2 separate regions of the Homo sapiens genome follow, and region 1 is linked to region 2. The links come from fine-mapping of genetic effects on gene expression. A gene starts in region 2. The other region holds a variant in brackets. All regions are shown on one strand. Distances are between the middles of the regions.

What was found. PIP is the estimated chance that this variant, and not a neighbour inherited with it, causes the effect.
Region 1: its variant is fine-mapped to the expression of CD320 in whole blood (INTERVAL, PIP above 0.99).

The regions. Positions count from the first base shown.
Region 1 is chr19:8,338,621-8,349,857 of GRCh38, reverse strand. KANK3 (KN motif and ankyrin repeat domains 3) reads left to right here and starts at 6,596. Exons shown (of 11, transcript NM_198471.3): 1 at 6,596-6,633. It also overlaps the pseudogene LOC100129682. RefSeq lists enhancers at 6,362-7,153, 9,088-9,588. The variant A/G (reference allele first, on the strand shown) is at 5,485.
Region 2 is chr19:8,304,119-8,315,355 of GRCh38, reverse strand. It overlaps CD320 (CD320 molecule), which reads left to right and starts at 6,998. Exons shown (of 5, transcript NM_016579.4): 1 at 6,998-7,207; 2 at 10,200-10,325. The coding sequence starts at 7,066. It overlaps NDUFA7 (NADH:ubiquinone oxidoreductase subunit A7), which reads left to right. Exons shown (of 4, transcript NM_005001.5): 4 at 3,761-4,072. The coding sequence ends at 3,851. RefSeq lists enhancers at 2,813-3,415, 6,170-6,699, 6,755-7,494, 7,379-7,508, 7,495-8,235 and 1 more and silencers at 6,896-7,234, 7,209-7,298.

The sequences.
Region 1 (11,237 bases), 35 kb before region 2:
TTTTTTTTCCTTCCTTCCTTCCTTCCTTCCTTCCTTCCTTCCTTCCTTCCTTCCTTCCTTCCTTCTTTCCTTCCTCCTTCCCTTCCCCTCCCTTCCTCCCTTCCTCCCTTCCTCCCTTTCTCTCTTTCTCTCTTTCTTTCTTTCTTTCACAGGGTCTCACTCTGTTTCCCAGGCTGGAGTGCAGTGATGTGATCACAGCTCACTGCAGCCTTGATCACCTGGGCTCGAGCGATCCTCCCACCTCAGCCTCCCCAGTAGCTGGGACTACAGGTGCATGCCACCATACCCAGCTAATTTTTGTAGTTTTTGTAGAGATGGGGGGTCTCACTATATTGCCCAGGATAATCTCGAACTCCTGGGCTCAACCGTTCCTGCTGCCTCGGCCTCCCAAAGTGCTGGGATTACAGGTGTGAGGCACCATGCCCAGGCATGCAATGCTTCTATTGTAAGGGAAAGGGAGGGATGGAGAGGAACCTGTGAATTAAAAGAGGCTTAGGCCGGGCGCGGTGGCTCACACCTGTAATCCCAGCACTTTGGGAGTCCCAGGTGGGCAGATCACCTGAGATCGGGAGTTCCAGACCAGCCTGGCCAACATGGAGAAACTCCATCTCTACTAAAAATACAAAAATTAGCCGGACGTGGTGGCGCATGCCTGTAATCCCAGCTACTCAGGAGGCTGAGGCAGGAGAATCGCTTGAATCTAAGAGGCAGAGGTTGCAGTGAGCCAAGATTGCACCACTGGACTCCAGCCTGGGCAACAAGAGTGAAACTGCATCTCAAAAAAATAAAATTAAAAATAAATAAATAAATAAATAAACAGGCTTAGGCCGGGCGCGGTGGCTCGTGCCAGTAATCCCAACACTATGGGAGGCTGAGGCTGGTCGATCACAAGGTCAGGAGATCGAGACCATCCTGACCAACATGGTGAAACCCCATCTCTACTAAAATACAAAAAATTAGCTGGGCATGGTGGCTTGTGCCTGTAGTCCCAGCTGCTCTGGAGGCTGAGGCAGGGGAATCGGTTGAACCTGGGAGATGGAGGTTGCAGTGAGCCAAGATCACGCCACTGCACTCTAACCTGGTAACAGAGCAAGACTCCGTCTCAAAAAAAAAAAAAAAAAAACGGGCAGGGGGAGCTTAAAAGACATATCATTTTCTTTTTGAATGGGCAAGACTAAACTCCAGTGTCTACAGATTCACATTTGGATAATAAAACTATACATGTGCAGTGGCGCTCACCTGTCTCCCAGCTACTCAGGAGGCTAAGGATCATTTGAGCCCAGGAGTTCCAGGCTGCAGTGAGCATTGATTGCACCACTGCACTCCAGCCTGAACAATACAGTGAGACTCTGTCTCGAAATAAATAAATAAGCAAACAAACAGAAACCTACACAGGGCCGGGCGTGTTGGCTCATGCCTGTAATCCCAGCACTTTGGGAGGCCGAGGCAGGTGGATCACCTGAAGCCAGGAGCTCAAGACCAGCATGGTCAACATGGTGAAACCCCATCTCTACTAAAAATACAAAAAATCTGGTCATGGTAGCGGGCACCTGTAATCTCAACTACTCAGGAGGCTGAGGCAGGAGAATCATTTGAACCCAGGAGACTGCAGTGAGCTGAGATCATGCCACTGCACTCCAGCCTGGGCAACAGAGCGAGATTCTGTCTCAAAAATAAATAAATAAATAAACAAACAAATAAATAAAAGTCACAAAACAGTGGTTACTTAGGGAGTGAGGGGCAGCTGTGACTAGGACATAGTCCACGGAGGCGCTTCTGGGGTAGCTGGCAAGTGCAGTTGGTTGGCCCGGGTGGAGGCGACGATGACCTTCATCTCAGCACTGGGTTTCTGAAACTTAGCACTCTTGACATTCAGGCCACATAATTCTTGGTCCTTGGGGATGGCCTGTGCATTGCAGGGTGGTTAGCTACATTCCTGGCCTCCGCCCTCTAGAGGCCAAAAACACCCGCCTCCTCATTACCCAAAAGTGCTCCTGGATATTGTCAAACATTCTCCCATGGGGCAAAATCACTCCTGGTTGAGAACTACCCCCTGGAGGAACTCCTTAAACTATACATTTGTGGGGTTTTTTGTTGTTGTTGTTGGTTTTGTTTTGTTTTTTGTTTTTGTTTTTTACTTTTAATTGCATTTATTTTAATGCTGAATTTACTCCCATGCCATAAGTTTTTGTTTCTTCAGTTTCTTCTGGGATATCTTTTTCTTTCTTTTTTTTTTTTCCGAGATGGAGTTTCACTCTTGTTGCTCAGGCTGGAGTGCGATGGTGCGATCTCGGCTCACCGCAACCTCTGCCACCCGGGTTCAAATGATTCTCCTGCCTCAGCCTCCTCCTGAGTAGCTGGGATTACATGCATGCGCCACCACGCTCGGCTAATTTTATATTTTAAGTAGAAATGGGGTTTCTCCATGTTGGTCAGGCTGGTCTCGACCTCCCGACCTCAGGTGATCCACCCGCCTCGGCCTCCCAAAATGCTGGGATTACAGGCGTGAGCCACTGCGCCCGGCCTTGGGATATCTTTTTCTTTTGGGCAACCTCCTCCTCTGGCTTAGGAAAAATCTGTTCCTTTTCAGTAAGAATCATCTCAGTGTGGCAGGGAGAACTCATTCATGGGTTAATCCGACCGGAGTTCCGTAGGTCTGGCGACGCATCTTAGGTACTTTGTTCACTTGGATATGCTCAATGACCAGAGAATCTACATATAACCCTTAAGTTCAGCATTACTCTCTGCATTTTTTTTTTTTTTGAGACGGAGTCTCGCTCTACTGCCCAGGATGGAGTGCAGTGGCACAATCTCGGCTTTGCAACCTCCGCCTCCCGGGTTCAAGCAATTCTCCTGCCTCAGCCTCCCTGGTAGCTGGGACTACAGGCACGTGCCACCACACCCAGCTAATTTTTGTATTTTTAGTAGAGATGGGGTTTCACCGTGTTGGCCAGGCTGGTCTCGAACTCCTGACCTCAGGTGATCCGCCCACCTCAGCCTCCCAAAGTGCTGGGATTACACGTGTGAGCCACCATGCCCGGCCACTCTCTGCATTTTTAAGCATGTACAGCAAAAATTCAGCACTTTTTCTGGGCCACTGACTTTGTGTCCAGCCCCACTGCTTGGCCTGGGCACACCTGCCAACTCCACCATTGTAATGTTGGAATGGTACACACAGTTTCTGTAAAGTGACATCTTTCAGATACTTCGTGGATTTTCATATATACATACCCTTGATGGCCTGGGCAGTTTCATGAGTGTTCTCCAAGTGAACATGAAGATTTGAACCTCTTGATTTGCATGATTTTGTGGGGTTCTCTGGGTCAAGTAAATAGCGAACCATTTTCCCAGATTACCTCAGGCCACTTAGGGAAAGAGTATACATTTGTTTTATGTGGTTTCTTGAATCTGCTGTGTGTGTGCATCTATGGACGCTTTATTTTACAACTATATATATATATATATATATATATATATATATATATATATTTTTTTTTTTTTTTTTTTTTTTTTGAGACAGAGTTTCACTCTCGTTGCCCAGGCTGGAATGCAATGGCTCACTCTCGGCTCACTGCAACCTCTGCCTCCCAGGTTCAAGTGATTCTCCTGCCTCAGCCTCCCAAGTAGCTGTGATTACAGGCATGCACCACTACACTGGGATAATTTTGTGTTTTTAGTAGAGACGGAGTTTCTCCATGTTGGTCAGGCTGGTCTCGAACTCCCGATATCAGGTGATCTGCCTGCCCTGGCCTCCCAAAGTGCTGGGATTACAGGCGTGAGCCACCGCACCCGGCCACAATAAAAATATTTTAGGGCTGGGTGCGGTGGCTCACGCCTGTAATCCCAGCACTTTGGGAGGCTGAGGCAGGCAGATCACGAGGTCAGGAGATCAAGACCATCCTGGCTAACACGGTGAAACCCCGTCTCTACTAAAAATACAAAAACAGCCAGGTGTGGTGGTGGGTGCCTATAGTCCCAGCTATTCGGGAGGCTGAGACAGGAGAATGGCATGAACCCGGGAGGCGGATCTTGCAGTGAGTGGAGATCACACCACTGTACTCCAGCCTGGGTGACAGAGCAAGACTCCGTCTCAAAAAAAAAAAAAAATTATATATATATATATATATATATATATATATATATACACACACACACACACACATATATTTTAAACATTCCAATGGAGGCCAAGTGCAGCGGCTCATGCCTGTTATGCCACTATTTAGGGAGGCTGAGGCAGGAGAATCACTTGAACCCAGGAATTTGCGACCAGCCTGGGCAACATAGAGAGACCCTGTCCTTACAAAAATAAGAAACCTGCTGGACGTGGTAGCACATGCCTGTAGTCCCAGCTACTCGGGAGGTTGAGGTGGGAGGATTGCTTGAGTCTGGGAGTTCAAGGCTGCAGTGAGCCATAGGTCTTGCCACAGAACTCCAGCATCGGCAACAGAGTAAACTTTGTCTCAAAGGAACAAAGAAGAAAATTCCAATGGAGTTTCTGTGGGGAAACGCGACAGAATTCCACAGTTTTAACTGAAAGAATCAACCAATTAAAATAGCCCAGGAATTTTGTTTTTTTTTAAAAAGTATCAGATGTTAAAATACATTTTAAAATATTACTATATTCTGGCCAGGTGCTGTGGCTTATGCCTGTGATCCCAGCACTTTGTGAGGCCAAGGCAGGTGGATTGCTTGAGCCAAGGAGTTGAAGACCAGCCTGGGCAAAGTAGTAAAAGCCCGTCTCTACTAAAAATAAAAAAAATTAGCTAGGCGTAGCACACACTTGTAATCCCAGCTACTTGGGAGGCTGAGGCAGGAGGATCTCTTTAACCTGGGAGGCGGAGTTTGTAGTGAGCTGAGATATTGTGCCACAGCACTCTACCCTGGGCAACAGAATGAGACCCTGACTCAAAAAAGAAAAAGAAAACATTATTTCAGCAAACATTTATTAAGCATCTACTGTGTACTAGGGTCGCTGGATAAAGCAGTTATCAAAACCAGTTTCCTGTTCCCATGGTGCTGACACTTAATTTAGAGACAGAGTCTCACTCTGTTGCCCAGGCTGGTCTTGAGCTGCTGGGCTCAAAAGATCCTCCCACCTCAGCCTCAGGAGGTGCTAGGATTACAGGCATGAGCCACCCCACCTGGCCTTGGTGCCGACACTTTAGTGAGATGGCAAGCAGGTAAACCAATAAATAACCAGCCAGGCATGGTGGCTCACGCCTGTAATCCCAGCACTTTGGGAGGCTGAGGTGGGCGGATCACCTGAGGTCAGGAGTTCGAGACCAGCCTGGGCAACATGGTGAAACCCTGTCTCTACTAAAAATACAAAAATTAGCTGGGCGTGGTGGTGTGCGCCTGTAATCCCAGCTACTTAGAAGGCTGAGGCAGGAGAATCGCTTGAACCCCAGGAGGCAGAGGTTGCAGTGAGCCAAGATCGCACCACTGCACTCCAGCCTGGGACAGAGCGAGACTCTGTCTAAA[A/G]AAAAATTAAATTAAATTAAAAAATAAACCAAATAAATAACTGAGTGTTTCGTTTTTGTCTTTTTGTTTTGTTGTTTTCTTTTGTTTTGAGAACTAGGTCTTGCTATGTTGCCCAGGCTGGTCTCAACTCCTGGCTCAAGCTATCCTCCCATCTATGCCTCCCTAAATACTGGATTTACAGGCGTGAGTCACTGCGCCTGCCAATAACAGAGTCTGCTTTTTTTTTTTTTTCCAGATAGTAAAAGTAGCTATTAGGTTAATACAATAGAGTGATGAGAAAAATACTAACTGGGGAGGGGCTATGTCAGGAATTTAGGGGGCAGCAACACAAAAGCTGAACCTCAGAAAGTAGGGAAGGCCGGGCGCGGTGGCTCACGCCTGTAATCCCAACACTTTGGGAGGCTGAGGCGGGCGGATCACTTGAGGTCAGGAGTTCCAGACCAGCCCGGCCAACATGGTGAAACCCCATCTCTACTAAAAATACAAATATTAGCTGGACGTGGTGGTGTGTGTCTGTAATCCCAGCTACTCGGGAGGCTGAGGCAGGAGAATTGCTTGAACCCAGGAGGCGGAGGTTGCAGTGAGTGTCACTGCACTCCAGCCTGGGACTCCGTCTCAAAAAACAAAAACAAAACAAAACAAAAAACAGTAGGGGAGCCTCAAAAAGTACCTACGTGTACAGGTGCAAGGGAAAGCATTTCAGGTAGGTGGAACAGCATGTGCAGAGGCCCTGCGGTGGGGAAGATCCGGGACCTGATACTTCACCCAGGCACTGCGAAATAAGTGCCAGTTATAGAAATCCCACCGGGTTACTCTTCTACTCATAGTTCTCCCATGGCTCCCTCGTGCCTGTGGATCAAATCCAAGCTCCTTGGCCCGGCGCTGGGCAGAGACTTGACCTCTGCTGGTGCAGAAATGCCGCCAGCCAGCGCTCGGCGACCGTCACTCCAGGGCCCGCCCTCAGTCACCACCCCTACATTCCAGGCCCCGCCTGCCTGTCCCACCCCACCGTCCCACTGGGCGGCTTGGAGAGCCTCGGGTGCTGGTTGGCTGGCGTGGCCGTCAGTTAGGGCGAAGGCCTTGATAATCAGTCCCCGGACTTCGAGGGGGCGGGCTCGGGTGCGGGCGCGGCTGGGGCTGCGGCTTCAGGTAAATTGCCAGCTTGCGGGGACACGGATGGGGGACCCCTGGGTGGGTGGATTCGGGGACGCACCGGGACCCGGCGCTGCGCTGCGTTTCCAGCCCCACTGAGGGCTCTGCCCGCTGCGACGGGGCGGGCGTCGTGTCCTCTGGCCGGGACCCCTCCCACATTGGAAGTCCCAGGTGGGTAGCGAGCAGAGTGGGGGGCTCTGGAGGCGTGGGCTTGCCCCCCTCTCGCCCTTCGGGAGCTCACTGCGGGGCTCGTTCGCTCCCTAATGCCACAACCGGCCCTGGGACCCTTTCCCGGGACGGCCTGGGGACCCCAGCCAGCCCCTCGCGCTGGGCTGGGTGTGGGAGCGTGTCACGGAAATGGTGTTTTGGGGAGGGACGCACGGCCCCCGGACCCGCAGACAATGGGTAGCGGATGGAACCGCCCGGCGGCGCTTCCTGTAGGAAACTGCTCTGTCTCTGTGCGGCTAGGACGACCTGGGGGTGGACGGGTGATGATGACTTTAACACCCACCTTCCTGCCGCCACCGGTCCCCCACCCACCCACCTCAAGAGTCTGAGAGTCCCAGCAGACATCAGGGGCTGCCAGTACTCAGGGCCTCCTGGAAGGCGCCCTCTCCCCAGGACTGGGATCCTCACTGGCCTGCCGTGGCCCCCACCACTCCGGTTTGGTGATCACAGCTCTGCGTCCCAAAATAGTCCCTGGGGCGGGAGAGGGGGCGTGTGGCGTCGGCTCTGACGGCCTAATGAGGGGGTCTCAGGCACAGAATCCGGATCTAGCTGTGACAGTCAGGGCAGGGAGCGGAGGAGAGGGAAGGCAGCTAAACGCCCCACTTAGTGAGGCCCCAGCCCCTGAAGCCGCAGAGGTGGTGGGCACCTCCGCCCCCAATCAGAGTCTGACACAGGTGTAGGCTGGGAGGGACAAGCCCCCTGAGGCTCCTTGGTGGTTCATGCCTGTTATCCCAGCACTTTGGGAGGTCAAGTAGGGCTGATCTCTTGAGGTCAGGAGTTTGAGACCAGACTGACCAACATGATGAAACCCGTCTCTACTAAAAATTCAAAAATTAGCCAGCTGTGGTGGCAAGTGCCTGTAATCCCAGCTACTCAGGATGCTGAGGCAGGAGAGTCGCTTGAACCCTGGGCTCAGAGGTTGCAGTGAGCCGAGATCCTGCCACTGCACTCCAGCCTGGGTGACAGAGACTCCGTCTCAAAAATAAAAATAAAAGAAAGCATTCAAGTGTAGTGGCCAAAGCAAGGACTCTGGAAGACCTGCCTGGGTTTAAAACCTGCCTCTGCCTGTTTATGACAGGACCCAGGCAGGACACTAAACTGTTCTGTGTCTCAGTTTCTCCATCTGTACAATAGGGGAAGGGACAATGATCATAGGAAATCCAACCTCAGTGGATTTAGCTAGGATTTTAAAAAATAAGTCAAGGTCAGGTGCAGTAGCTCATGCTTGTAATCCCAGCACTCTGGGAGGCTGAACTGGGAAGATTGCTTGAGCCCAGGAGTTGGAGGCCAGCCTGGGCAATATAGCAAGACACCTGTATCTACAAAAAATAAAATTAGGCCGGGCACGGCTCACGCCTGGTTTGAGACCAGCCTGGCCAACATGGTGAAACTCCGTCTCTACTAAAAATACAAAAATTAGCCAGGCATGGTGGTGCACACCTGTAATCCCAGCTGCTTGGGAGGCTGAGGCAGGAGAATCACTTGAACCCGGGAGGCGGAGATTGCAGTGAGCTGAGATTGTGCCACTGCACTCCAGCCTGGGCGACAGAGCATGACTCCATCTAAAACAAAAAACCAAAAAATTTAAAATATTAGCCTGAATTAGCCAGGTGTAGAGGTCCATTCCTGTAGTCTCAGCTATTTGTGAGGCTGAGGCGGATCACTTGAGCTCAGGGGTTCAAGGCCACAGTGAGCTATGATCGAGCCACTGACTCCAGCCTGGGTGACAGAGTGAGCGAGACATTGCCTCTAAAAAAAAAAAAAAAAAAAGTAAATATCCATAAATTCCTTAGACTAGAGGCTGGCCCATAGTAAATATCAAAAGCGTTGTTATTATTTGACATTCTGGAGGGATCCATTCCTTTCTTAGCCCAGCCTCTGGATCCAACTGCTTCAGCTAGTTTAGGTCTTAGGAATGGCCCACAGCTGTCTTCTGAGATCCCAGGGCCTGGGATTTGGGTGTGACCAGGTCACCGGAGGAGGACGCTGACCCCATTGCGTCATACGGCCAGCTGTGTGAGAAGTAGACCCAGACCCCCCAACCCTTGATCTGGACTTTTTCCACAACCCAGTTCTTCCCTGGCAATTTCCTGAAAACAAGTGATGAACGGCATTGGCTGTCCTCTGCGATGACCCGCTGGCCTGTTGATCCACCCCTTGCAGCTGGTGTGAAGGGACGGGAAACAGCTGCTTGGGGACTGGAAGAGGCCCCCTGCCTGGCCTTGGAGTGGGAAGGGAGAGGTCAGGGACCTCGGCCAGACAGAAGTGGGAAATGGAGTTACGGTTTCCCCAGCGGTGGAGTAGGGTAATGAGTCAGGAGGGCTGGTGGGTGCTCAGTGCTTCATAGCATCAGGCACACAGGTGGTCCCAGGGATTCGAGAAGCCAGAAGGGGTGGCTGGGAGTGTTGCCATGTGGTTAGCACAGACGGGCCGTGGCCCAGGGAGAGGATGAAGTGGGTTTGGCAGATGCCTGTCAGTGGAGGACTGGACAGGTAAAGGGCAGTCAGAAGCTGTGGCAGGGACCTGCTGACAAGGGTTCCGCAGATGGGCAGAGCCCAATCTGAGGGTGCTTCCCACAGGCAACTGATTTAATTGTTCTGTGCCTCAGTTTCTCCATCTGTAAAATATGAATAATAATACTACTTTGCAGTATGCAAAGTGTTGTATGGGGGCTGTGTGTGTGTGTGTGTGTGTGTGTGTGTATATATATATATATATGGTTTTTTTTTTTTGAGACGGAGTCTGGCTCTGTCCCCCAGGCTGGAGTGCAGTGGCATGATCTCAGCTCACTGCAACCTCTGCCTCCCAGGTTCAAGCGATTCTCCTGCCTCAGCCTCCTGAGTAGCTGGGACTACAGGCATGCACCATTGTGTCCAGCTATGGCGATGACATTTAATCAGGAAGGGCACACCGTAGGCACTTTCCCCTCCCTGAAGGTTTTCCATGTGGGCTTTCCAAAGCCCATCTTTCCCACTCCATGTTCCTGTGCTTTTCTTTTCTTTTCTTTTCTTTTTTTTTTTTTTTTTTTTTGAGACAAGGTCTTGCTCTGTCAACCAGGCTGGAATGCAGTGGCATGATCATAACTCACTGCAGCCTGCATCTCCTGGACTCAAGAGATACTCCTGCCTCAGCTTCTTGAGTAGCTGGGACTACAGGTGCATGCCAACACATCCAGCTAATTTTTGTGTTTTTTGTAGAGATGGGGTTTCGCTATTTTATTTATTTATTTAGAGACAGAGCTTCGCTCTTGTTGCCCAGGCTGGAGAGCAATGGCTTGTGAGCCACTGTGCTTGGTGGTTTCACTATTTAAAAACAAACAAACAAAAGAGATAGTGGCCAGGCACCTTGGCTCATGCCTGTAATCCCAGCACTTTGGGATGCCGAGGTGGGTGGATCACCTGAGGTCAGGAGTTCGAGACCAGCCTGGCCAACATGATGAAACCCTATCTCTACTAAAAATACAAAAAATTAGCCAGGTATAGTAGCAGTGGCTGTAATCCCAGCTACTCAGGAGGCTGAGGCAGGAGAATCACTTGAACCCAGGAGGCAGAGGTTGCAGTGAGCCAAGATTGTGCCACTGCACTCTAGCCTGGGCAACAAGAGGGAAATTCTGTCTCAAAAAAAAAAAAAAACAAAAAGAGATAGGGTCTCGCTATGTTGCGCAGGTGGGTCTTGACTCCTAGGCTCAAGCGATCCTTCTGCTTTGGCTTCCCAGAGTGCTGAGATTTCACCCTGTGCTTTTTGAACCAAAGTTCTGGATTCAATATTTGTCCTTGTTAAATATCACATTATTATATGTGGCCCAATCTTCCTCACTTTCTTACAGCCTCCATCATGTCATCCAAACAGTCACTTTCCCAGGCAGCCCCATGAATAGTCACAGCTCTGACAACCCAGGTGTTTTGTGTTTGCATTACAAACTCTTACAAGCCAAGGATCAAGCCTGTGACACTCCGCTAGCGACATTCCAGGGAGACAAGTATCCGTTGATTTGTTGATTTGGATCTTTGGTGCATCCAGCCCGCAATTCCCCATCATTCCTGCAAGAGTTTCACAACTGACCTTGGTAAAAATTTGGATGCACAATTACATCCTTTTTTTTTTTTTTTTTTTTTTTTTTGAGACGGAATCTCGCTCTGTTGCCAGGCTGAAGTGCAGTGGCGCCACCTCAGCTCACTGCAAGCTCCGCCTCCCGGGTTCACGCCATTCTCCTGCCTCAGCCTCCCGAGTAGCTGGGACTACAGGCGCCTGCCACCACGCCCGGCTACTTTTTTATATTTTTAGTAGAGATGGGGTTTCACCGTGTTAACCAGGATGGTCTCGATCTCCTGACCTCATGATCCGCCCTCCTCGGCCTCCCAAAGTGCTGGGAT
Region 2 (11,237 bases):
AGGGCAGGAGACAGATGCCTTCCTCTTGTCTCAACTGCAACAGGGCATTCCTTCCTCTTTTACTAATCCTCCTCATCACAGACCCTTTACCGGTGTCGGGCTGGGGGACGGTCAGGTCTTTCCTTTCCCACGAGGCCACATCTCAGGCTATCACATGGGGAGAAACCTTGGACAATGCCTGGCTTTCCTAGGCAGGGAACCCTGTGGCCTTCTGTGGTGTTTTGTGTCCCTGGGTACTTGAGATTAGGGAGTGGTGACGACTCTTAAGGAGCATGCTGCCTTCCAGCTTCTGTTTAACAAAGCACATCCTGCACTGCCCTTAATCCATTTAACTCTGAGTTGACATAGCACATGTCTCAGGGAGCACAGGGTTGGGGGTAAGATTACAGATTAAAATGGAGTCTCTTATGTCTACTTTCTACACAGACACATTAACAATCTGATTTCTCTTTCTTATCCCCACACCAGGCTGGAGTGCAGTGGTGTGATCTCGGCTCACTGCAAGCTCTGCCTCCCAGGGGTTCACGCCATTCTCCTGCCTCAGCCTGCCTAGTGGCTAGGACTACAAGTGCCCACCACTACACCTGGCTAAGTTTTTGTATTTTTAGTAGAGACGGGGTTTCACCGTGTTAGCCAGGATGGTCTTGATCTCCTGATCTCATGATCTGCCCGCGTTGGCCTCCCAAAGTGCTGGGATTACAGGCGTGAGCCACCATGCCCGGCCTCCATGCTGGGTTAATTTTTAAATGTTTCGTAGAGATGGGGTCTTGCTTTGTTGCCCAGGCCGTTCTCAAACTCCTGGGCTCAAGCGATCCTCCTGCCTTGGCCTCCCGAGTAGCTGGGACTACAAGTGAGAGTCACCATGCTCAGCAAGAGCTCATTTAGTCCAACCCAGGGGAGGGTAGAAGTTAGCGCCTCAGCCAGGACTCTGCATCCTACAAAACAGATGAAGTCCGGGGTCCCTCCAAGGGTCCTGTGAGAAACTGAGACATTACTGTTGATATAATTATGAATTCTTATTTTATTTATTTATTTTGAGACAGTCTCACTCTTATTGCACAGGCTGGAGTGCAGTGGCGCGATTTCGGCTCACTGCAACCTCCACCTCCTAGGATCAAGTGATTCTCCTGCCTCAGCCTCCCAAGTAGCTGGGATTACAGGCGCATGCCACCATGCCAGGCTAATTTTGTATTTTTAGTAGAGATGGGGTTTCACCATGTTGGTCAGGCCGGTCTTGAACTCCTGACCTCATGTGATCCTCTGGCCTCGGCCTCCCAAAGTGCTGGAATTACAGGTGTGAGCCACCATGCCCAGCCATGTATTCTTCTCAGAGACAGAAGTGTATAAACCTTGGGCTCCTCTCAAAAAGCAGTTTGGTCCCTGGTTTCAGGTGTCTTCTCTTAATTAAATGGGGACTCTAATAGCATCTACTTCAGAAAGCTGTTACGAGGGTTAGTCCTCATAATTAATATTTGTAAACTCTTGGAGCCTGGCACAGAGTCAGTGTCCTGCCTACCTCCTAATAACTCCACCAGTTAGATGGTGATGACCCCTCTTGCAGAAGAGGAAATCGAGGCTCACAGAAGCCAAGTGACTGGCCTGGGCCACACAGGCAGCAGTAAGCAGAAGCAGGATTTCAAACCAGTTTTCCTGGACTCCTGTTGGGGTCTGGGCTCTACAGCCAACTCACGGTGTGGGCAGTCCCTCAGCCTTCTTGAGCCTTGGTTTCTTCACATATAAAATAGGGATGCTAGACTTGCAGTGTGCTGAGATCTGGGAGGTGATGAGGTCAGGCAGGGCCTGCTCTGTACTTAAAACTCTGTGAGGTCTGGGCGCGGTGGCTCACGCCTGTAATCCCAGCACTTTGGGAGGCCGGGGAGGGCGGATCACCAGGTCAGGAGATCGAGACCATCGTGGCTAACATGTTGAAACCCTGTCTGTACTAAAAATACAAAAAATTAGCCAGGTGTGGTGGTGGGCGCCTGTAGTCCCAGCTATTCGGGAGGCTGAGGCAGGAGAGTGGTGTGAACCCGGGAGGCGGAGCTTGCAGCTCACTGAGATCGCGCCACTGCACTCCAGCCTGGGTGACAGAGTGAGACTCTGTCTCAAAAAAAAAAAAAAGAACTCTGTGAATAGGCCAGGCGCAGTGGTGTGTGCCTGTAATCCCAGTGACTCGGGAAGCTGAGGTGTGAGGATTGCTTGAGTTCTAGACTTGTTTGAGTAACACAGCGAGACCCCGTCTCTATTAGAAATTTTTTAGGCTGGGCATGGTAGCTCACGCCTGTAATCCCAGCACTTTGGGAGGCCGAGGTGAGAGGATCACTAGGGGTCAGGAGATCGACACCAGCCTGGCCAACAGGGCGAAACCCTGCCTCTACTGAAATACAAAAGTTAGGGGCGCTGTGGCTCTCGCCTGTAATCTCAGCACTTTGGGAGGCCGAGGCGGGTGGATCGCTTGAGCCCAGAAGTTCAAGACCAGCCTGAGCAGCATGGGGAAACCCCATCTCTACAAAAAATACAAAAATTAGCCGGGTGTGGTGGTGTGCACCCGTAGGCCCAGCTACTTGAAGGGCTGAGGCAGAAGGATCTCTTGAACCTGGGAGGTCGAGGAAGCTTCACTGAGCTGAGATTGCGCCACTGCACTCCAGCCTGGGTGACAAAGTGAGACCCTGTCTCATAAATAATAAACAAGAAAGAAAATACAAAAATTAGCCGGGAGTGATGGTGCACACCTGTAATCCCAGTTACTTGGGAGGCTGAGGCAAGAGAATCACTCAAGCCTGGGAGGCGGACGTTGCAGTGAACTGAGATTGTGCCACTGCACACCAGCCTGGGTGACAGAGCAAGAGTCTGTCTCAAAAAGAAGGAACTCAGTGGAGTGGTCCTTGTTGTCACCTTCTGATTCACTGGAGTCCAGCACCAGAGTGTGGCAAGATACCTTGTTCCCACACAGCCCCTTGCCATGCCCCCAGAGATGTGTGCATTTCCCAGGGAGGCCACTTCTGCCTTTTCCATTTCCTTGAGGCTCCTGGGAGGTCCTGTGCCTCCACCCCTGGGGCGCCTCCTCCATCACCCCACCCTCCTGCTTCCTTTCTTGCTTAGGCTGTGAAGTGTGTGAGCTCCACAGGCTCAGGTGGGTGGGGTGAGAGGGGAGGGTGCTCGTCCTGGACTTGCCGGCACAGGGTCTCCTGGGGGCTCCCTCTTGGCCAGCTCTGGGCCAGAGATGCGTTTTGCAGTTGCCATTTGCGCATGGATTCTCAGCCCCACCAGCCTGAGTCTTCCTGAGGGCGGTGCCCCATCTTCCTGGCTCTGCGCCCACACAGTAGCGCCTGCCATGCAGTTCTTGCCCAGTCTGAGGCAGGAATAGCTGGAGGCCATTGTCACCTGATCGCTTGGCCCTTTTGCCAGCATCCTGTTTTGAGGGGCAGCAGGAATGGGGGTGGGGGCCTTGTGTACGCTGGAGACCAAAAGTGGGAAGGGAGGAGCCCAGCTCTCCACAGTGGGTTCTGGGCCTGGGGGCCACAGCAGGGGGTTCATACAGGGCTCAGGGGAGAGAGGAGGCTTGCTAGCTCCCACCTGGCGTTGGCTGATCCTCTGAGGGGCTGCGTTGGAGGGGTTGGCATTCTGGAACACCCTGCTGTCTGTCCTGCAGGTCCAGAAAGTCCCTGTGGGTGTGTTTGTCCCGGGGCAGGTGTGGGCTCCCTCAGATCTTTCCACACTGTTCTTTGGAAACCCTCACTGAAGTCTTTCCCTCCTCCAGCTCTGCTGTAGCTGCCACTGAGAAGAAGGCGGTGACTCCAGCTCCTCCCATAAAGAGGTGGGAGCTGTCCTCGGACCAGCCTTACCTGTGACACTGCACCCTCACGGCCACCCGACTACTTTGCCTCCTTGGATTTCCTCCAGGGAGAATGTGACCTAATTTATGACAAATACGTAGAGCTCAGGTATCACTTCTAGTTTTACTTTAAAAAATAAAAAAATAGAGACAGAGTCTCACCATGTTTCCCAGGCTGATCTTGAACTCCTGGCCTCAAGCGATCCTCCTGCCTTGACCTCCCAAAGTGCTGGGATTACAGGCATGAGCCACCACACCTGGCCTGATTTTATTTTTATTTTTTAGACCTTCCCACTGAGGCCTCTGCTTGACCTTGGTCACCCTGTAGCTCAACGGGGAAGGCAAAGGACAGTGAGGGCTGCTTACAGGGAAGGCAGACCTAGGGCAGATCAGGAAAGGCCTCCCTGAGCCAGAAACCATTATGCTGGGGCTGTGGGATGAGAATGAGTTAGCTCCAGAAGGAAGGCAGCTGGTTCCTGGGGAGGAGATAGAAATCTGGCTGCAGGAGCCAGAGTTTTCGCGCTTGTCACCCAGGCTGGAACGCAACGGCACGATCTCAGGTCACTGCAACCTCTGCCTCCTGGGCTCAAGCAATTCTGCCTCAGCCTCCCGAGTAGCTGGGACTACGGGTGTGCACCACCATACCCGCTAATTTTTTTTTTTTTTTGTAGAGATGGCCAGGCTGGTCTCAAATTCCTGACCTCAGGTGATCCGCCCGCCTTGGCCTCCCAAAGTGTTGGGATTACAGGTGTGAGCCACCACGCCTGGCCCCTGATTTTAAGCAATACCCAGCTTACTTGGATTTTGGGGTGAAGTCAGTGCTGAGTCTCCCAACTCTGTTGGCACTCCAGGGGTGGGACAGACACTGTCCCTGGGTGCAGAGGCCCTGGAGACAGCACTGCCCTTTCCCCCAAAGGCCAGGCTCTGACCTTGAGAGTGGTGGGAGTGGGTGATCCTTCTGGGAGGTTGGACTCCCAGGACCGCTGGCTGTTGGGGAGCATTGATTGTGAAGACCAGTCAGGTGGGGTAAGGGGTGTATGTGCGGACACTCAGTAGGCCAGCCACAGACTTCTCACTTCTTTTTTTTTTTTGAGACAGAGTTTCGCTCTTGTTGCCCAGGCTAGAGTACAATGGCGCGATCACGGCTCACTATAACCTCTGCCTCCTGGGTTCAAGTGATTCTCTTGCCTCAGCCTCCCGAGTAGCTGGGATTACAGGCGCCTGCCACAAGCCCAGCTAATTTTTGTATTTTTAGTAGAGACGGGGTTTCGCCATGTTGGCCAGGCTGGTCTCAAACTCCTGACCTCAAGTGATCCGCCCACCTCTGCCTCCCGAAGTGTTGGGATTACAGGCGTGAGCCACCGCGCCTGGCCTAACTTCCATCTCTTGAGGGCTCCCACAGCCACTTCTCACATGAACCTTCCTCAGCACCTTCCCACTGAGGCTCCTGCTTGACCATGGTCACCCTGCAGCTCAACGGGGAAGGCAGAGGACAGTAAGGGCTGCTCACAGGGAAGGCAAACCTAGGGCAGATCAGGAAAGGCCTCCCTGAGCCAGATCCCATTATGCTGGGGCTGTGGGATAAGAATGAATTCGCCCCAGAAGGAAGGCAGCTGGTTCCTGGGGAGGAGACAGAAATCTGCAAAGGGAGGGTGTCCAAGTCTGGCTGCAGGAGCCACCCAGTGACCCTACGCAGGGGAGTGTCATGGCTTCCCCAGGGCACAGCCCCAGACCCTTCAGCAGCTAAAAAAGATCAGCTGTGGACCAAGAGGGTGCTGAGACCGCCCTGCCCTCTGGAAGGGGAAAGGCCACGGCTACAGGCAGCAGGTACCAGTGTCCCAGAGTGGGTCCTACAAAGGCTAACACCTTCCTGGAGAAGGTGGGATTCTGCTTGGGGCAAAAGGATGAATCAGATTCAGAAAGGTCAGGAGGGAAGGAAAGACTAGGCAGGGTGTGCAGAGGCCACAAGGAGGGCAAGACCCTAGGCAAGGCATGCCGCTGACGGCATCTGAACCAAGTTTTATGACCACAACTTTTTTTTTTTTTTGAGACAGAGTCTCACTCTGTCACCCAGGCTGGAGTTCAATGATGTGGTCTCGGCGCACTGCAACCTCCGCCTCCCGGGTTCAAGCGATTCTCCCATCTCAGCCTCCCTAGTAGCTGGGACTACAGGAGCATGTTACCACACCCGGCTAATTTTTGTATTTTTGGTAGAGACGGGAGTTTTACTATGTTGGCCAGGCTGGTTTAGAACTCCTGACCTCGTGATCCGCCTGCCTCGGCCTCCCAAAGTGCTGGGGTTAACAGGCGTGAGCCAGCGCGCCGGCCAACTTTTCTAACAAATGGGGTCTCACTGTCACCCACGCTGGAGTGCAGCCCCAAGTGATTCTCCCACCTCAGCCTCCTGAGTAGCTGGGACTACAAATTAGAGCCACCATGCCCAGCTAATTTTCTTTTTTCTTGAGGCGGGCGGGGACTTGCTGTGTTGCCCAGGCTGATCTCGAACTCCTGGGCTCAAGCGATCTGCCCGCCTCTGCTTCCCAAAATGCTGGGATCACACACGTGACCCACCGCGCCCGGCCTTTATTATTAAATTTAATTAATTAATTGATTTCCTTTCCTTTTTCCCCCCCAAGCAACCCGACTCCGAGAATGGACGTTTCATTTATTCATTTACTCACCAAATGTTTACTAAGAGCCTACTATGAGTCAAGCACTATGTGTCAGATCCTGAGAATAAAGCAGTGAGCAACAGAAGATCCCTGCCCTCCAGTAGCTAGCATTCTATGGGGACTCGGACAACAAACCAGAATAAGTAAATAAAATAAATTACCTGTCGGCGCCACAAAAGCAGTGGGATGAGGGAGGAAATGCGGAGTGCCTGAGGGGCGTGGCTGCCATATTAAAGAAGATCACGAGGCAGTAACATTTGCAGCAGTCCTCATTTGGAACGGGAAATAATGCAAATGAACACCAACAAATTCCTTCCCATCCCCAGAAGTTTCTAACTTCAAGCGGGCTCCATACCTTTCAACTGATCTGGTCACTGGGGAAAGTGGGGACGGGCCTCTAATTCTCTTTTCCCTGCTATTCTGACATTTACGGTACGCGTAGCCGCGGGCGCCGCAGAACTCAGGGGCTTGGGCCCCGCCCCAACCCCGCGCGTGCGCGTGCGCAGGGATAAGAGAGCGGTCTGGACAGCGCGTGGCCGGCGCCGCTGTGGGGACAGCATGAGCGGCGGTTGGATGGCGCAGGTTGGAGCGTGGCGAACAGGGGCTCTGGGCCTGGCGCTGCTGCTGCTGCTCGGCCTCGGACTAGGCCTGGAGGCCGCCGCGAGCCCGCTTTCCACCCCGACCTCTGCCCAGGCCGCAGGTGAGTGACGCCCCGCAGCGCGGGCTCCCACCCCTCGCGAGGCTTCGCCCCGCCGCCGCGCACCGACAACGCCTAGTCACTGGCTGCACCGCACGTCAGTTCATGACACTCCCCCAGCACGTGGACTTGGACTTCATCGCTTGTGGGAAGGCGCGCACTGGTGCTAGGAAGACCCCATGCTGGGGGAGGGGAGGAGGGTGTCTCCACCTGCCTTTAACGGTTTTGCTCCGGCCCTGCACACCGTCTCCACACCTGCTGTGCCCTGTCGTCCCCCATTGTCACCTCCAAGCCGCCCTTCATACCAGCGTGGTCAGGAAAGCTCTTAGCAGGCTCAGATTGTCCGACCGCTAATCACGCAGGACGGGTCACCTGGTGCCTCTCGCACCTTTGCCTTCCAAACCCTCGCGCCCAGGCCTTGTGACCGTTCCGCAACCGTCCCTGCCCTCCCAGTCTCTCCTCCTTTGTCCTCCATCCTTAGAGAACGCGAGGTCTCTCCCCCCCATGCTACTGCAGGCTCTCGCAGAGACTGGGGTCACAAGTTGAATATACCCCCGTGGACGTGTTCGCCCTGGCCTAAGAGGTATTGGTGGCCAGTGGGGACGGGCTCCCTCTCTGATACCCCTAGAGGCAGCTGGAGGGTTGGAGTGGCCTCCCTGTGCACTCAGGCACTCCCAACTTGCAGCCCTGGGCTCAGGCTCACACACTTTCCCAGCTCCTTTGTGCATTCCGCACTTCTAGGTCCCTGGACTCATCCCAAAGTCCCTGACATTCACGTTAAATGTTCCTGGGTTTTTTTTTGTTTGTTTTTTTTTAAGGAGGCAGCGTTCACGTTAACCAAGTACAAAAGTTTTTGTTTTTTTTTTTTTGAGTCTCCCTCTGTCGCCCTGGCTGGAGTGCAGTGCAATGTTGGCTCACTGCACCCTCCGCCTCCCGGGTTTAAGCAATTCTCATGCCTCAGCCTCCCGAGTAGCTTGGGACTACAGGCACCGTCACCATGCCCGGCTAATTTTTGTATTTTTAGTAGAGATGGGGTTTCACCATGTTGGCCAGACTGGTCTCGAACTCCTGACCTCAAGTGTTCTGTCCGCCTCAGCCTCCCAAAGTGCTGGGATTACAGGACAAAACTCTATACACAGTCTCTTTTTTCTCAGGATGTTGAGGTAGGGATTCCCAGCATACCCCGTTTACAGGTGAGGAAACTGAGGCCAGGAGAGAAAGTCACTGGTCACTGTAACTCCTGTCAGGCTTACACCCTATGAGGCGGGGACTGCTGTGCTCTACTGTCCACTTTGCAGAGGGATACACACTCCCGCAGTCCAGCGAAGGGAGGTCAGAGGTGTCAGGGCTGTGGAAGTCTGCGCCTGGGTGGAGAGCCACACCTGGAGGCTGCCAGATCTCCCGGGGGCGGGGAAGGAAGCAGGCACCGGTTTGTCCACAGCTCTTCTGGGATCCATAGAGCTCAGGGACCCTGTGGCAAGTAGGTGCAATTAGGCCTGAAGGCCGAGGAGGGGCTGGCAGTGGGGAGTGGGGGGTTGGAGGCTCATGGCTGGTGGGTAAAGGTGGAAGAGGTTAAAGGCCTTGGCAGAGTGAAGCTAAGCCAGGGTGGCGGATTTGCCACCTCCCCTGGCCGCACCCAGGAGGAAGCCGTAAAGGCCACTCCCTTCCTCTGTCCCTTGGCCCAGGTTGCGGGCCCCTCCGTGCCCCTCCAGGTCGGCAAGCAGCTGAGCTTCCCTGCTCAGAATCTAGGACAGCCGGGATCTTCTCTGGACCCAGCTTGGACCCTTATGTGACCTGTGTCCACTTATAATCAGGCACTGCCCTGGGTTTAGGCGGCCAGGTCACAGCCCTGACCTCCACAGAATGTCCAGTCTGTGGGTGGACAGGCATGACCAGGGCTTTAAGGACAGTTGTTAGACATGGGAGGCAGTGCTTCCTAGGTCTCCAAGAGGGACATGAGAACCCTCCCAGGAAATCAGCTGAGATCTGAAAATTGAGGGGAAAACACAGGGTGTAGGGAGGAGAGAGGGAAAGGCAAGTCTCTGGTGTCCTAATGGACCTTGGGGCCTGGGGCCTGGGGCTCTGGTGAGGAGCTGACACATTTAGGATGGGGAGAGTGATAGGTCTGGGAGGAATTCAGGAGGCGGGGCAACAGGACTTGGTGACTGAGCAGATTTTCTACCCAGTGCCTCAGTTTCCCACCCACTGCCTCAGTTTCCCTTTTGCTACGCAGAGGAGATAGACCCTCCCTGCTGACCTGAGCCCGGGAGCCTGACCCAGGGCATGTGGAAAAATGGCCCGTCCCTCAGTCTCTTTAACCACTGAGTTTGGAGGTCTCCCTGGCAGATCATCTCGCTATGAGGAGCCTGGTGAAGACTCTGGGATCAGCGAGACCTGAGTTCGAAGCCCAACTCCGCTACCAGCTCTTTTTTTTTTCTTTTTTGTGGTGACGGAGTCTCGTTCTGTCGCCCAGGCTGGAGTGCAGCAGTATGATTTCGGTTCATTGCAACCTCCATCTCCCAGGTTTAAGCGATTCTCATGCTTCAGCCTCCCGAGTAGCTGGCATTACAGGCGTGCACTACCACGCCCGGCTAATTTTTGTATTTTTAACAGAGACGGGGTTTCCATGTAGGCCAGGCTGGTCTCGAACTCGTGACCTCAAGTGATCCACCTGCCTCGGCCTGCCAAAGTGCTGAGATTACAGGCGTGAGCCACTGCACCCAGCCTCTGCCACCAGCTGTATGGCCTCCTCTTGGTTCCTTTCTCTGTAACCTGGGGAGTGCAGTAGCACCTGCCCAGTGGGGCTCTTGAGCCCAGGAACTGCTACACTCTGAACCCCACTCGTACTAGGGGCTCAGTAACAAGCAGCCGCCAGTGTGGTTCCTATATCCCGGGACTTCGCCTGTCTCCTGCGGATCACAGCCAGTGACTACTGTGCTCTTGGAGAAAGGTCCAGCCTCCAGCTTCCCAGGCTTCATTTGCATCCATCTCGCAGGCCCCAGCTCAGGCTCGTGCCCACCCACCAAGTTCCAGTGCCGCACCAGTGGCTTATGCGTGCCCCTCACCTGGCGCTGCGACAGGGACTTGGACTGCAGCGATGGCAGCGATGAGGAGGAGTGCAGTGAGTGGCCACGCCCCTTGGCGGGGCTTACAGGGGGCGGGGCCTGAGGGTGGTTTGTCAGGGGCCAGGCACGCGGAGGTGGAGCTTGTGGGAAAGGCAGGGCCGCAGGGATGGGTGCGACTTGGGTCTGTGGGTCATAAGAAGCGGGGTCTAAGATGGGCTTGGGCTGGGCGCAGTGGCTCACGCCTGCAATCCCAGCACTTTGGGAGGCTAGGGTGGGAGGATCGATCACTTGATCCTGGGAGGTTGCCGCTGCAGTGAGCTAGGATTGTGCCAGTGCACTCCAGCCTGGGCAACAGAGTAAGACTGTCTCAGGAAAAAAAAAGAAAAAGAAAAAAAAAAGAAAAATGAAAGAAAGGAAAGAAAGGAAGGAAAGAGAGAGGGAGGGAGCCAGGTACGGTGGCTCACACATGTAATCCCAGCACTTTGGGAGGCCAAGGCAGGCGGATCACTTGAGGTCAGGCGTTCGAGACCAGCCTGGCCAACACAGTGAAACCCCATCTCTACTAAAAATACAAAAGTTAGCTGGATGTGGCGGCAGGCCCCTGTAATCCCAGCTAGTCAGGAGGCTAAGGCAGGAGAATCACTTGACCCTGGGAGGCAGAGGTTTCAGTGAGTCGAGATTGCGCCACTGCACTGCAGCCTGGGCAGCAAAGGGAGACCCCGTCTCAAAAGAAAAAATAAAGAAAGAAACAAACAAACAAATAGAATAAAGTGGGCTTGTAGGAAGGTAGAGCTAGTGGGGTCTCAGGGGAAGAGCTTGCAGGGAGGCCTGTCCTTAGAAAGTGGAGTTAACAGTTGCAGGGGGCGGAGCCTTAGGAAGGGAGCATTTTTTTGGGCTCAGCTGTTCTTAGAGGGTGGGGCTTGCAGGGGATGGGGTTTCAGGGAGTACCTGGGCCTTCTTGGGTGGGC